3 separate regions of the Homo sapiens genome follow, and all the other regions are linked to region 1. Evidence: fine-mapped expression QTL. A gene starts in region 1. Each other region holds a variant in brackets. All regions are shown on one strand. Distances are from middle to middle.

Evidence for each region. PIP is the estimated chance that this variant, and not a neighbour inherited with it, causes the effect. A credible set is the group of variants that fine-mapping cannot tell apart.
Region 2: its variant is the best candidate, but not a certain one, in a credible set for the expression of LINC02218 in whole blood (TOPMed, PIP 0.68).
Region 3: its variant is the best candidate, but not a certain one, in a credible set for the expression of LINC02218 in whole blood (TOPMed, PIP 0.76).

What each region holds. Positions count from the first base shown.
Region 1 is chr5:17,441,867-17,446,115 of GRCh38, forward strand. LINC02218 (long intergenic non-protein coding RNA 2218) reads left to right here and starts at 2,144. Exons shown (of 3, transcript NR_134270.1): 1 at 2,144-2,368.
Region 2 is chr5:17,416,056-17,420,304 of GRCh38, forward strand. All of the region lies in intron 1 of LINC02217 (long intergenic non-protein coding RNA 2217), which reads left to right. Among named protein-coding and RNA genes, the nearest start is that of LINC02217, 14 kb to the left of the region's middle. RefSeq lists an enhancer at 1-486. The variant T/C (reference allele first, on the strand shown) is at 2,054.
Region 3 is chr5:17,473,378-17,477,626 of GRCh38, forward strand. LINC02218 (long intergenic non-protein coding RNA 2218) reads left to right here. Exons shown (of 3, transcript NR_134270.1): 2 at 4,238-4,249. Among named protein-coding and RNA genes, the nearest start is that of H3Y2, 17 kb to the right of the region's middle. The variant G/A (reference allele first, on the strand shown) is at 2,547.

The DNA.
Region 1 (4,249 bases):
TCGCTCTCTGGTTTTTCTAATATCATGATCCCAACTCTGTTCTTTATGTAAATTTCCCTGATCACATGGTTGTATCTTGGCATTTCAAAATCCTTGACAGACTTTGTTTTGTTTGAATTTTACAATGAACTTACATGACTAGGCACGGTCCCCAGTTCAGTTTTATAGACAAGGATTCTGTAGGTCAAGAAGTGAAACACAACCAATAACAGCAGGTGACAGGATTTAAACCTGGGTCACTTTACTTATTTTTTTCTACTCTATCATTATGTGAATCTATCCTACCTCTGCAATGACAGATGGCCCTAGAGCAAGAACACTTCCTTACATCTGGTATACAGTCAAAAAGTAAAAATTCCACACAAATAAATATGGAAAGAATTTTTACCTGCTCCTATAGCTTCCTTTCAGGGACCTGGCACCCACAAATGTTGGGTAACAGAAAGAGGACTTATGTAACTTAACTCAAAGCAGAAAAGTTACAGAGACTGTCTTAGCATAATAGAGCATGGAGTGGTCATGCTTGGATGTGCAAACTGTCTGATAGTCTTGCACATGGCTTGACCCCGAATTACACTAGTGGGGCAAGTTGCCTGGGGCAAAGCAAACTTATTGGACCCAAAGCTCTCATTTGAGAATTTTGTTGACTAAAAGTTATAAAATATCAGCAATTTCATATGGTTCAGCCTAATATTTTATCACTCTTCCTTTTTCTATTCTAAAACAATAATTTTTAATAACGTAAGCTATACACATACATGCTTTAAACATACAACACCCTGACTATCATATAGTGGATATTTCAAGAAGTAAATGTTCAGCATGTCTTCACCCCCACTTGAAGACATAATGTATGTATTAGGCTGTTCTGGCATTGCTATAAAGAAATACCTGAGACTGTGTAATTTATAAGAAAGGAGCTTTAATTGGCTCACGGTTCTGCAGGCTGTACAGGAAACATATTGGGTCTACTTCTGTGGAGGCTTCAGGGAACTTTGACTCATGGTGGAAGGTGAAATGAGAGCAGGCACCTCATGTGACTGAAGCAGGAGCAAGAAAGAGAGAGCGAGCAAGGTGCCACACACTCTTAAACAACCAGAACTCTCTCTTGAGAATTCACTCACTGTCTTGCCGTCAGCACCAAAGGGATGGTCCTAAACCATTCATGAGAAATCCTCCTCCATGATCCAATCACCTCTCACCAGGCCCTACCCCCAACACTGGGATTACAATTCAACGTGAGATTTGGGCCTGGACACAGATCCAAACCCTATCAATATATTAGCCAGATACTTGCAGCTGTATGAAGAATACCCTGGTTACCCAGCTACAAATGCAGATGTTATTGATAAGGGAGGGGGGCAGGGAAGTGCTGGGAGGAGAAAGCAGGTCTCTGGCGAGGGCTTCACCCCGGTGCCTGTGCCCACAGACCTAGGTAAGGGCAGGCACTCCTGCCTTTGCGCCCAAATGTTGCATTTCCCAAGACCACCCTGGCCCACCACGCCCCCATCCTGTGCCTATAAAAACCCCGAAACACTAGTGGGCACTCACACAAGCGGCTGGACGTCCAGAGGACGTCAACAAGAGCACGCCGACAGGCAGACCCTGGCAGGCCATCGACTGGCGGAAGGACATGGAGTTTGGCTGCGTGGTTGGAGGAGAGCCAGGCCGCTAGGTGGCCTGACTCCAGGAAACTACACCTTCCCACTCCATCTCCCTTCTGTCTCCCCTGTCTGCTCACAGCTACTTCCTCTCAATAAAACCTTGAACTCATTCTCCAAGCCCACGTGTGATCTGATTCTTCCGGTACACCAAGGCAAGGACCCTGGGATACAGAAAGTCCTCTGTCCTTGAGATAAGCCAGGGGGTCTAATTGAGCTGACTAACACAAGTCGCCTACAGATGGCAAAACTAAAAGAGCACCCTGTAACACACGTGTGCCCACTGGGGCTTCAGCTGTAAACATTCACCCCTAGACACTGCTCTTGGGTTGGAGCCCCACAACCCAGCCGTCCGCATGCTCCCCTAGAGGTTTGAGCAGTGGGGCACGGAAGAAGCGAGCCACTCCTCCTGTTGCACACCCTGCGGGTGGCGCAAGGGAACGTTTCCTGTTTCATCATCAGGGATATTGTATCGGTGTCTTAAATAACACTAGCATTTTGACATATTTGGAGCTGCTACTGGGCCAGCTCTGTTTCCAGGCCTGCCTTTCAATCTTTTCCTTGCTTCTGGCATGAGTTACCATCTCTTTTAAGAAATTGGTTATGCATTTGAAAATACACGTAGCTATACATACTTTAAACATATCATTTAGCAAGGATGCTCCTTATCGGACCGTTGCTGGGAACAGAGAACACGACAGTTCCAGGTGAGCGAAATAGTGTGATCTCATACATGATGAAAGCTAAGCAGGCAACAGCTTTTCCGTAAGCAAGCATTTCAAAATGTATTTGTAGAAAGGCAGTAAAAGAATAAGATGCAAATCAAGCTATTTTTAAACCATCGTTTTCAGGGCCAAGGAAGAAATTATGAGAATGAATTTTTTAAAAAAAGATTATAAGGTCTTTAGTGGTGTTTTTAGTTGAAGTAATTTAGAGATGATTAGGTATTGCTATTTTTTATTCAATTCTTTACAACAAAAGCTTACAGAAATAGAAAGCTTTGCCATTTCTTTTCCCCACAACTTTAAAAAGTAAAGAGTGAGTGTTGGGTCACAATAATCTTTCTTTTTTAGTCTCCTTTTTGTGCAAATTCATCCACCATCAAATTACATTGTACTCCTTCCTCCTCTGTGACTACCTGTGGAAGAATGTTTATATAAATAAACCCAAAGGCCTGTCTTTTTGTCTGTTGCTCTGAGTAAGTGGTGCAAAATAGATGCCTTAGTCTGGTGATTTGATTTAATACAAATGGACCTTGTTAGAACACTTCTTTACACCTGAGATATTGGGAGATTTACTTGTAACCTTCCTTGCTACGTGAACAGCAGTAGTATTTGCTGTTTCTAAGATGTGTTGTAGTTTGAAAGATTTTGTTTGTATCATGCCAAAGTGACTGCATTAAGAAGTTCCTAGTTGACTGATTAAAACAAAACAAAACAAAACTCCTTTAATCATTCAGCTGTTTGACCTATGCTAGTGTATAGGTGCTATACACAATTATATATTTTGATGCTTTCTGTTTTATTATGTGGCAGTGTGTAGTCCCAGTATTTATGCTAATTATATCGTTCTTTGGAATCCAGTTTTTCTTTTTGTAAATTTGGATTAAAGTCTATCATGGCTCCTTTCAAAGAGAGCACTAAATGTAAATGGAGGGTTCTTTGATACCATTAGAGAGATGGGACTGAGATCTCAAAGAAATAGGCTGCACTGGCTCTGGGGTGAATGGGTCCTATGACTTGTAGGGCTTCAGAGTAGGACACACAACTCTGGGGCTAAAGCTCAGGACATTGGCCATGCAGTTGAACATTTCTGCCCGTTCTTTCCTGGTCCTGCCCTGTGCAATTTCCAGCTTCTGTAAATACATATTGAAGGTATGTATACATAGCAAAGGTGTGCCAAAGTGTACAGTTGCTCAGATTATTTGCACACCTTGGTTTGGCCCTGGCCAGTTGAAGGAGTCATGAGGAAATACCTTGCTGCGATGACTTCTGTCATTCATTTCTCTGTGTATATTGGTACTAATTGATTTTTTTTGGCAGAGTTTAAAGTACTTTTGAACTTTTCCCCTTTCTTCTCTCCTCTGCTTCTTTTTCCAGACTGTTTCCAAGATTGGATGAAGAGATTCAATTGACAATGCTGTGAAGAGAGGGATTTGGAGCTTGTTGGGGGAGGTAGTGTTGACTTCCTTGTGCAATCTAGGATTGAGTGGGGGATGCAGTTGGAAGGCAAGAGAAGTAAGACTCCTCCATCTTCCTGGTCCAGAGAAATTATGCTGGATCCCCCTACCCTTAATGAGAAAGGAGGTGTTTGTGTTTCCAGCATCTATGAGATCTGATTGCTAATGTAGCTACCTTTAAAGAATTCTGCTATTTACAATAAAAGTGAGATCTCCCTCCTCCATCCTGTGTTACACAGCCTGGGATTGCACCGTTGTTCCTGGCACCTTTGCATTGCAGGAGCCTGCCTTTGACTTTCTTTCCTCTCCACACATCTTCTATTCCTGCTGCTTCTCTTTTCAGAAAGTGCTGAGCTTCTAGGCTAGTGTCCCTCTCAACGGATGAATATTCAGCAGAGAATGGAGAGCT
Region 2 (4,249 bases), 26 kb before region 1:
CTGCCTCAGCCTCCCGAGTAGCTGGGGCTATGGGCACCCGCCACCACGCCTGGCTAATTTTTTGTATTTTTAATAGAGACCGGGTTTCACCATGTTAGCCAGGATGGTCTCGATCTCCTGGCCTCATGATCCGCCTGCCTCGGCCTCCCAAAGCGCTGGGATTACAGGTGTGAGCTACCACGCCAGGCCTTTTTTTAAAAAATTTAAGTTCTAGGTTACATGTGCACAACGTGCAGGTTTGTCGCACAGGTATACATGTGCCATGTTGGTTTGCTGTACCCATTAACTCGTCATTTACATTAGGTATTTCTTCTAATGCTATCCCTCCCCCAATCCCCCACCCTACGACAGGCCCCAGTATGTGATGTTCCCCACCCTGTGTCCAAGTGTTCTCATTGTTCAATTCCCATCTATGAGTGATAACATGCGGTGTTTGGTTTTCTGTCCTTGTGATAGTTTGCTCAGAATGATGGTTTCCAGCTTCATTTTTGTCCCTGTAAAGGACATGAACTCATCATTTTTTATGGCTGCATAGTATTCCACGGTGTATATGTGCCACATTTTCTTAATCCAGTCTATCATTGATGGACATTTGGGTTGGTTCCAAGTCTTTGCTATTGTGAATAGTGCTGCAATAAACATACATGTGCATGTGTCTTTATAGCAGCATGATTTATAATCCTTTGGGTATATACCCAGTAATGGGATCGCTGGGTCAAATGGTATTTCTAGTTCTAGATCCTTGAGGAATCGCCACACTGTCTTCCACAATGGTTGGACTAGTTTACAGTCCCACCAACAGTGTAAAAGTGTTCCTATTTCTCCACATCCTCTCTAGCATCTGTTGTTTCCTCACTTTTTAATGATCGCCATTCTAACTGGTGTGAAGTGGTATATCATTGCGGTTTTGATTTGCATTTCTCTGATGGCCAGTGATGATGAGCATTTTTTCATGTGTCTTTTGGCTACATAAATGTCTTCTTTTGAGAAGTGTCTATTCATATCCTTTGCCCACTTTTTGATGGGGTTGTTTGTTTTTTTCTTGTAAATTTGTTTAAGTTCTTTGTAGATTCTGCATATTAGCCCTTTGTCAGATGGGTAGATTGCAAAAATTTTTTCCCATTCTGTAGGTCACCTGTTCACTCTGATGGTAGTTTCTTTGGCTGTGCAGAAGCTCTTTAGTTTAATTAGATCCCATTTGTGTATTTTGGCTTTTGTTGCCATTGCTTTTGGTGTTTTAGTCATGAAGTCCTTGCACATGCCTATGTCCTGAATGGTACTGCCTAAGTTTTCTTCTAGGGTTTTTACGGTTTTAGGTCTAACATTTAAGTCTTTAATACATCTTGAATTAATTTTTGTATAAGGTGTAAGGAAGGGATCCAGTTTCAGCTTTCTACATATGGCTAGCCAGTTTTCCCAGCACCATTTACTAAATAGGGAATCCTTTCCCCATTTCTTGTTTTTGTCAGGTTTGTCAAAGATCAGATGGTTGTAGATGTGTGGTGTTATTTCTGAGGGCTCTGTTCTGTTCCATTGGTCTATGTCTCTATTTTGGTACCAGTACCATGCTGTTTTGGTTGCTGTAGTCTTGTAGTATAGTTTGAAGTCAGGTAGCATGATGCCTCCAGCTTTGTTCATTTTGCTTAGGATTGTCTTGGCAATGCGCTCTCTTTTTTGGTTCCATATGAACTTTAAAATAGTTTTTTTTCCAATTCTGTGAAGAAAGTAATTGGTAGCTTGATGGGGATGGCATTGAATCTATACATTATCCTGGGTAGTATGGACATTTTCATGATATTGATTCTTCCTATCCATGAGCATGGAATGTTCTTCCGTTTGTGTCCTCCTTTATTTCGTTGAACAGTGGTTTATAGTTCTCCTTGAAGAGGTCCTTCAGATCCCTTGTAAGTTGAATTCGTAGGTATTTTATGGGAGAAACTTAGTTTTTAGTTTAACTTTGAAACAAAGATGATAACAGCCCTTTCCCAAAACAAGCCTCCTTCTTGCCTGGGGGCTAGACTCACTATGTAGGACTAACAAATTAGCCACAAGA[T/C]TAGAAATTATGGTTTAGGAGTCATGCAGCTAAACATGCAGCCAAACAAATTCAGAGTGATTTGAGTAATCATAAAACTCTGGTCTCCTGTATAGCCGGCTCTGCAGGAATTCGACTCTTTCTCTATTGCAATTCCTGTCTGGATGAATAGACTCTGGGCAGTGGGCAAGGAGAACCTGCTGGGTGGTTACAGGAGTACGTAGCAACAATGTGTACCCTTTTCTTTACAACTCAAGACAATTTATCAATCCCACTTTACAAATTAGTTGAATACAGGACTCTCTTAACTGCTTATTCCAGTGGTTTTCAAAATGTGGTCTCTGCACATTTATACACTGTTGGTGGGAATGCAAATGAGTCCAGCCCCTGTGGAAAGCAGTTTGAAGATTTCTCAGAGAACTAAAAATAGAACTACCATTCTACCCAGCAATTTTATTGCTGGGTATATACCAAAATGAAAATAAATCGTTCTACCAAAAGACACCTAGACTCATATGTTTATTACAGCAGTATTCACACTAGCAAAGACATGGAATCAACCCAGGTGCCCATCAATGGTCGATTGGATAAAGAAAATGTAGTACATATACACCATGGAATACTATGCAGCCATAAACGATGAGATCATGACTTTGCCACAATATGGATACAGCTGGAAGCCATTATCCTAAGTGAATTAATTCAGAAACAACCAAATACCAAACGTTCTCACTAATAAGTGGGAGCTAAACATTGGGTACACATGGACACAAACACGGGAACAATCAACACTGGGGGGTCAGGCACAGTGGCTCACGCCTGTAATCCCAGCACTTTGGGAGCCCAAGGCAGGTGGATCACTTGGAGTTAGGTGATTGAGACCAGGCTGACCAACATGGTGAAACCCCATCTCTACTAAAAATATAAAAATTAGCAGGGAGAGGTGGCACGCATCTGTAGTTCCAGCTACTCGGGAGGCTGAGACAGGAGAATTGCTTGAACCCGGAAGGCAGAAGTTGTAGTGAGCCAAGATCACGCCACTGCACTCCAGCCTGGGCAACAGAGTGAGACTCCATCTCAAAAACAAACAAACAAACAGACAAACAAACAAACAAACAAATAAACACATAAACAAACACTGGGGATTCCAAAAGTGGGGAGGGTGCCAGTGGGGCAAGGGTCAGAAAACAACCTATTGCGTACTATGTTCACTACTTGTGTGACAGGATCATTAAAAGACCAAACCTCAGCATCATGCAATACACACATATGACAAACCTGCACATGTACTCCCTGACTCTAAAATAAAACAAAACAAAAAACAAAACCAAAGTCTTGTCCCTGGACCAGTAACATCAGCAATATCTGGAAGCTTGCTAGAAATGCGAATTCTCTGCTGCACTAAGACCTCCTGAATGGAAGACTTTGAGGCGATGCCCAGAAATCTGTATTTTAGCAGGGCTTCCAGATGAATCTATGTATGCTGAAGTTTTTACTATTTTGAGATTTTTGCTGATGGTTTTATAACAATATTGGTACTTTCAAATTCATATTATCAACACTCATATTTTCATATTCATATTTGTAAAATATTTCATCCTACACATGAGAAAACACACCTAAGATAAAGCGAGTGGCTTAAAATCACCCAGCCAGTGGGTGAGAAGCCAAAATCTTCCAGTCTGGGATGTTTTTAATTCCATTACATTGAAATGCAGAATTAATGTTTCCTTTACCTAGGCATTAAAGGAGAGAATAGGGTTAAGCTCACCCAGGGAAGGTCACCTGGCTGGCCAGAGGGGTGGCCCCCACCTTGGGAAATTTACTGTCGATAGCAGCCCCACAGTCTTAGAGATCTATATTGTCTGAAATCCAAAAGGAGAATCCAACCCTTTCCCAAACAGAGGGATATTAACCAGGCCTAGGTCCATCAGTGCCAGCCTCTCTCAGCAGCTCATCTCCACTCGATGCCCAGAAAGCCAATTGATCACGGGAATTCTGTTTTTTTCCTGCAAAAGGTGAGGCGAAAATGAGTGTATGTATGTGTGTGTGTGTGTGTGTGTGTGTGTGTGTGCATTTAGTTACATTACTAAAATGTTAATCAAAATGAAGTTAAAAATGGCCTGATTGGTCCCCCTGATAATTGGGCCATTTTGAGGAGCAGAGGAGAAAATGCAGAAAATAGCTCTTTGTAAACTAAATAAAGGCAAGCAGCAG
Region 3 (4,249 bases), 32 kb after region 1:
CCAAATGTACAAAGAAGAGCTGGTACCGTTCCTACAGAAACCATTCTAAAAAATCGAGGAGGAGGGACTCCTCCCCAACTCATTCTATGAGGCCAGCATGATGTTCATACCAAAAACTGGAAGAGACACAACAAAAAAAGAAAACTTCAGGCCAATATCCTTAATGAACACGGATGCAAAAATCCTCAATAAAATACTGGCAAATCAAATCCAGCAGCACATCAAAAAGCTTATCCACCACGATCAAGTAGGCTTCATCTCCAGGATGCAAGTCTGGTTCAACATATGCAAATTAATACATGTGATTCATCACATAAACAGAACTAAAGACAAAAACCACATGATTATGTCAATAGATGTAGAAAAGGATTTTGATAAAATTCAACACTCCTTCATGTTAAAAACTCTCAGTAAACTAGGTAGTGAAAGAACATACCTCAAAATAATGAGTTATCTGTGACAGACCAACAGCCAACATTATACTGAATGGGCAAAAGCTGGAAGCATTCCCCTGGAAAACCAGCACAAGACTAGGATGCCCTCTCTCACCACTCCTATTCAATGTAAATTTGGAAGTCCTAGTCAGAGCAATCAGGAAAGAGAAAGAAATAAAGGGCATCCAAGAAGGAAGAGAGGATGTCAAAATATCTCTGTTTGTAGATGACATGATTCCATATCTAGAAAACCTCATAGTCCTGGCCCAAAAGCTCCTCCAGCTGATAAATAAGTTCAGCAAAGTCTCAGGATACAAAAATCAATGTACAAAAATCCTGAGCTTTCCTATATACCAACAACAGCCAAATCTCGAGCCAAATCAGAAAGACAATCCCATTCACAATTACCACAAAAAGAATAAAATACACAGGAGTATAGCTAACCAGGGAGGTGAAAGAATTGGCAAAATATTGTTCAATTACAAATTATAAAGAGAATTACAAAACACTGCTCAAAGAAATCAGAGAAGACACAAACAAATGGAAAAACATCCCATGCTCATGGATAAAAAGAATCAATATCATTAAAATGGCTATACTCTCCAAAGCAATTTACAGATTCAGTGCTATCTGTATCAAACTACCAAAGACATTCTTCACAGAACTAGAAAAAACTATTTTAAAATTTATATGGAACCAAAAAGGAGCCTGAATAGCCAAGGCAGTCATAAGAAAAAAGAACAAAGCTGGAAGCATCATGTTACCCAGCTTCAAACTATACTACAAAGGCTACAGTAAGCAAAACAGCACGGTACTGGTATAAAAACAGGCATATAGACAAGTGGAACAGAATAGAGAGCCCAGAAATAAGGCTGCACATCTATGACCATCTGATCTTTGACAAAGCTGACAAAAACAAGAAATGGGGAAAAGACTCACTGTTAAATAAAAGGTGCTGAGATAACTGGCTAGCCATATGCAGAAGATTGAAGCTAGACCTTTTCCTTAGACCATATGCAAAAATCAACTCAAGATGGATTAAAGACTTAAATGTAAAACTCAAAACTATCAAAACCCTAGAAGACAACCTAGGCAATACTATCCTGGGCATAAGAACAGGCAAAGATTTCATGACAAAGACACCAAAAGCCATTGCAACTAAAAGCAAAAATTGACAAGTGAGATCTAATTAAACTTAAGAACTTCTGCACAGAAAAGGAAGCTATAAACAGAGTAAATAGCCAACCTACAGAATGGGAGAAAATACTTGCAAACTATGCATCTGACAAAGGTCTAGTATCCAGCATCTATAAGGAACTTAAACAAATTTACAGGAGAAAAACTAACAACCACATGAAAAAGTGGGCAAAGGACATGAACATACACTTCTCAAAAGAAGACCTACATGCAGCCAACAAGAATATGAATAGAAGTTCAATATCACTGATCATCAAAGAAATGCAAATCAAAACCACAATGAGGTACTATCCCACACTAGTCAGAATGGCTATTATGAAAAAGTAAAAAAATAACAGATGCTGGCAAGGTTGTGGAGAAAAAGGAACATGTGTACACTGTTGGTGGGAGTGTAAATTAGTTTAACCATTGTGGAAAGCAGTATGGTGATTCCTCAAAGAGCTGAAAGCAGAACTACCATTTGACCCAGCAATCCTATTACTGCTTATATACCCAGAGAAATAAAAATAATTCTACCATAAAGATACATGCACACAAATGTTCATTGCAGCACTATTCACAATAGCAAAGACAGGAAATAACCTAAATGCCCATCAATGACAGATTAAATAAAGAAAATATGGTATATATACACCATGGAATTCTATGCAGCCATAAAAAATGAGATCATGTCTTTTGAGAGAACATGGGTGGAGCTGGAGTCCATTATCCTTAGCAAACTAAAATAAGAACAGGAAACCAACTACTGCATGTTGTCACTTATACGTGGGAGCTAAATGATGAGAACTTGTGAACACAAAGAAGGAAACAATGGCCTGGCATGGTGGTTCACACCTGTAATCCCAGCACTTTGGGAGGCCAAGACGGGTGAATCACTTGAGGTCAGGAGTTTGAGACCAGCTTGGCCGACATGGT[G/A]TGAAACCCCATCTCTACTAAAAATACAACAAGTAGCCAGGCTGGTGGTGCATGCCTGTAATCCCAGCTATTCAGGAGACTGAGGTGCAAGAATCACTTGAACCTGGGAGGTGGTTGCAGTGAGCCAAGATCGTGTCACTGCACTCTAGCCTGGGTGACAGAGTAAAACTGTGTCTTGTAAAAAAGAGAAACCAAGAAACAGAGAAGGAAACAACAGACACTGGGGCCTACCTGTGGGTGGAGGGTGGGAGGAGGAAGAGGAGCAGAAAAGATAACTATTGGGTACTGGGCTTAGTACCCAGGTAATGAAATACTATGTACCACAAACCCCCATGACACGTTTTTACCTGTTTAACAAACCTTCACTTGTACCCCAAACCTAAGATAAAGGTTAAAAAAAATTCACTGGTCTAAATGCTTCCTTCAGTGCACCCATGAGGTCCCTCCATAGTATAAAATACACACGTATTGGCCGGACGCAGTGGGTCACACCTGTAATCCCAGCACTTTGGGAGGCCAAGGCAGGCAGATTGCCTGAGCTCAGGAGTTCCCGACCAGCCTGGGCACACAAACTCTGTCTCTACTAAAATGCAAAAAATTAGCCAGGCATGGCAGCATGTGCCTGTAGTCCCAGCTACTCAGGAGGTTGAGGCAGGAGAATTGCTTGAACCTGGGAGGTGGAGGTTGCAGTGAGTTGAGATCGCGCCCTTGCACTCCAGACTGGGTGACAGAGCAAGACCCTGTCTCAAAAAAAAAAAAAAAAAAGCTACATGTATTACATACACAATCACATATTGTATGACAGAGTGAGACTCTGTCTCAAAAAAAAAAAAAGCCACATGTATTAACATACACAATCATATATTGTATGACAGAGCAAGACTCTGTCTCAAAAAAAAAGCCACATGTACTACATACACAATCATATATTGTATAAGATAATTTATATACAATTTTATAAAATATTAAATATATTACATAAAATAGTATTGTATACTAATATATATGAAATAGTAGTATATACATGTAATATATAATATTTGGCAGTATTTAAATGCTATGGGATAAAGACAATAAGGAGAAAATGGCTAAAAGATAGATATACATGTATATGTACATAAATTTCAATATGTTAGCATATACATATTAATATGTTTGATGTTATTACTGTGTACTAGTATCTATCTATATTTAGCTTGTTAATAAATATGCTTGCTCAAGACTAGATTAGAGCCTTTGTTAATTATGTTGCTAAGGCGCTCTTGCTTTCCTCTGATACCCATCACCAGGCCGAGCTTCAGTTTATTTCCAATCACTGTCTCTAATTATCTGGGAGATGTACTGTGGCTCGTTGCCTCTCATTCTGCTTTGAGAGGTTCTGTCTTCACCAGCTGCCAGGGTTTTCTGTCCCTGGGTCTCTGCCACACTGAGGTATAGGGGAAGCTTGTTCCACTCCCCACTTTTTTTTTTTTTCTTTGCTGGAAGAATCATCTCTGAAGGTTTTTCCCTGACAATACACTCTCCTTGAACTGAATATGTCTAAACACAGTTGGTTTCACGGACATTTGATCTGTGCAGTTGCACAGGGTCCATTCTCAGAAGAGCCTGGTACTTACTTGACTTAATTCTCTGCTGTTTTGATATTCTGGATAATTTTTGAACAAGAAGCCCTACATTTTTATTTTTCACAGGTTCCTGCCAAT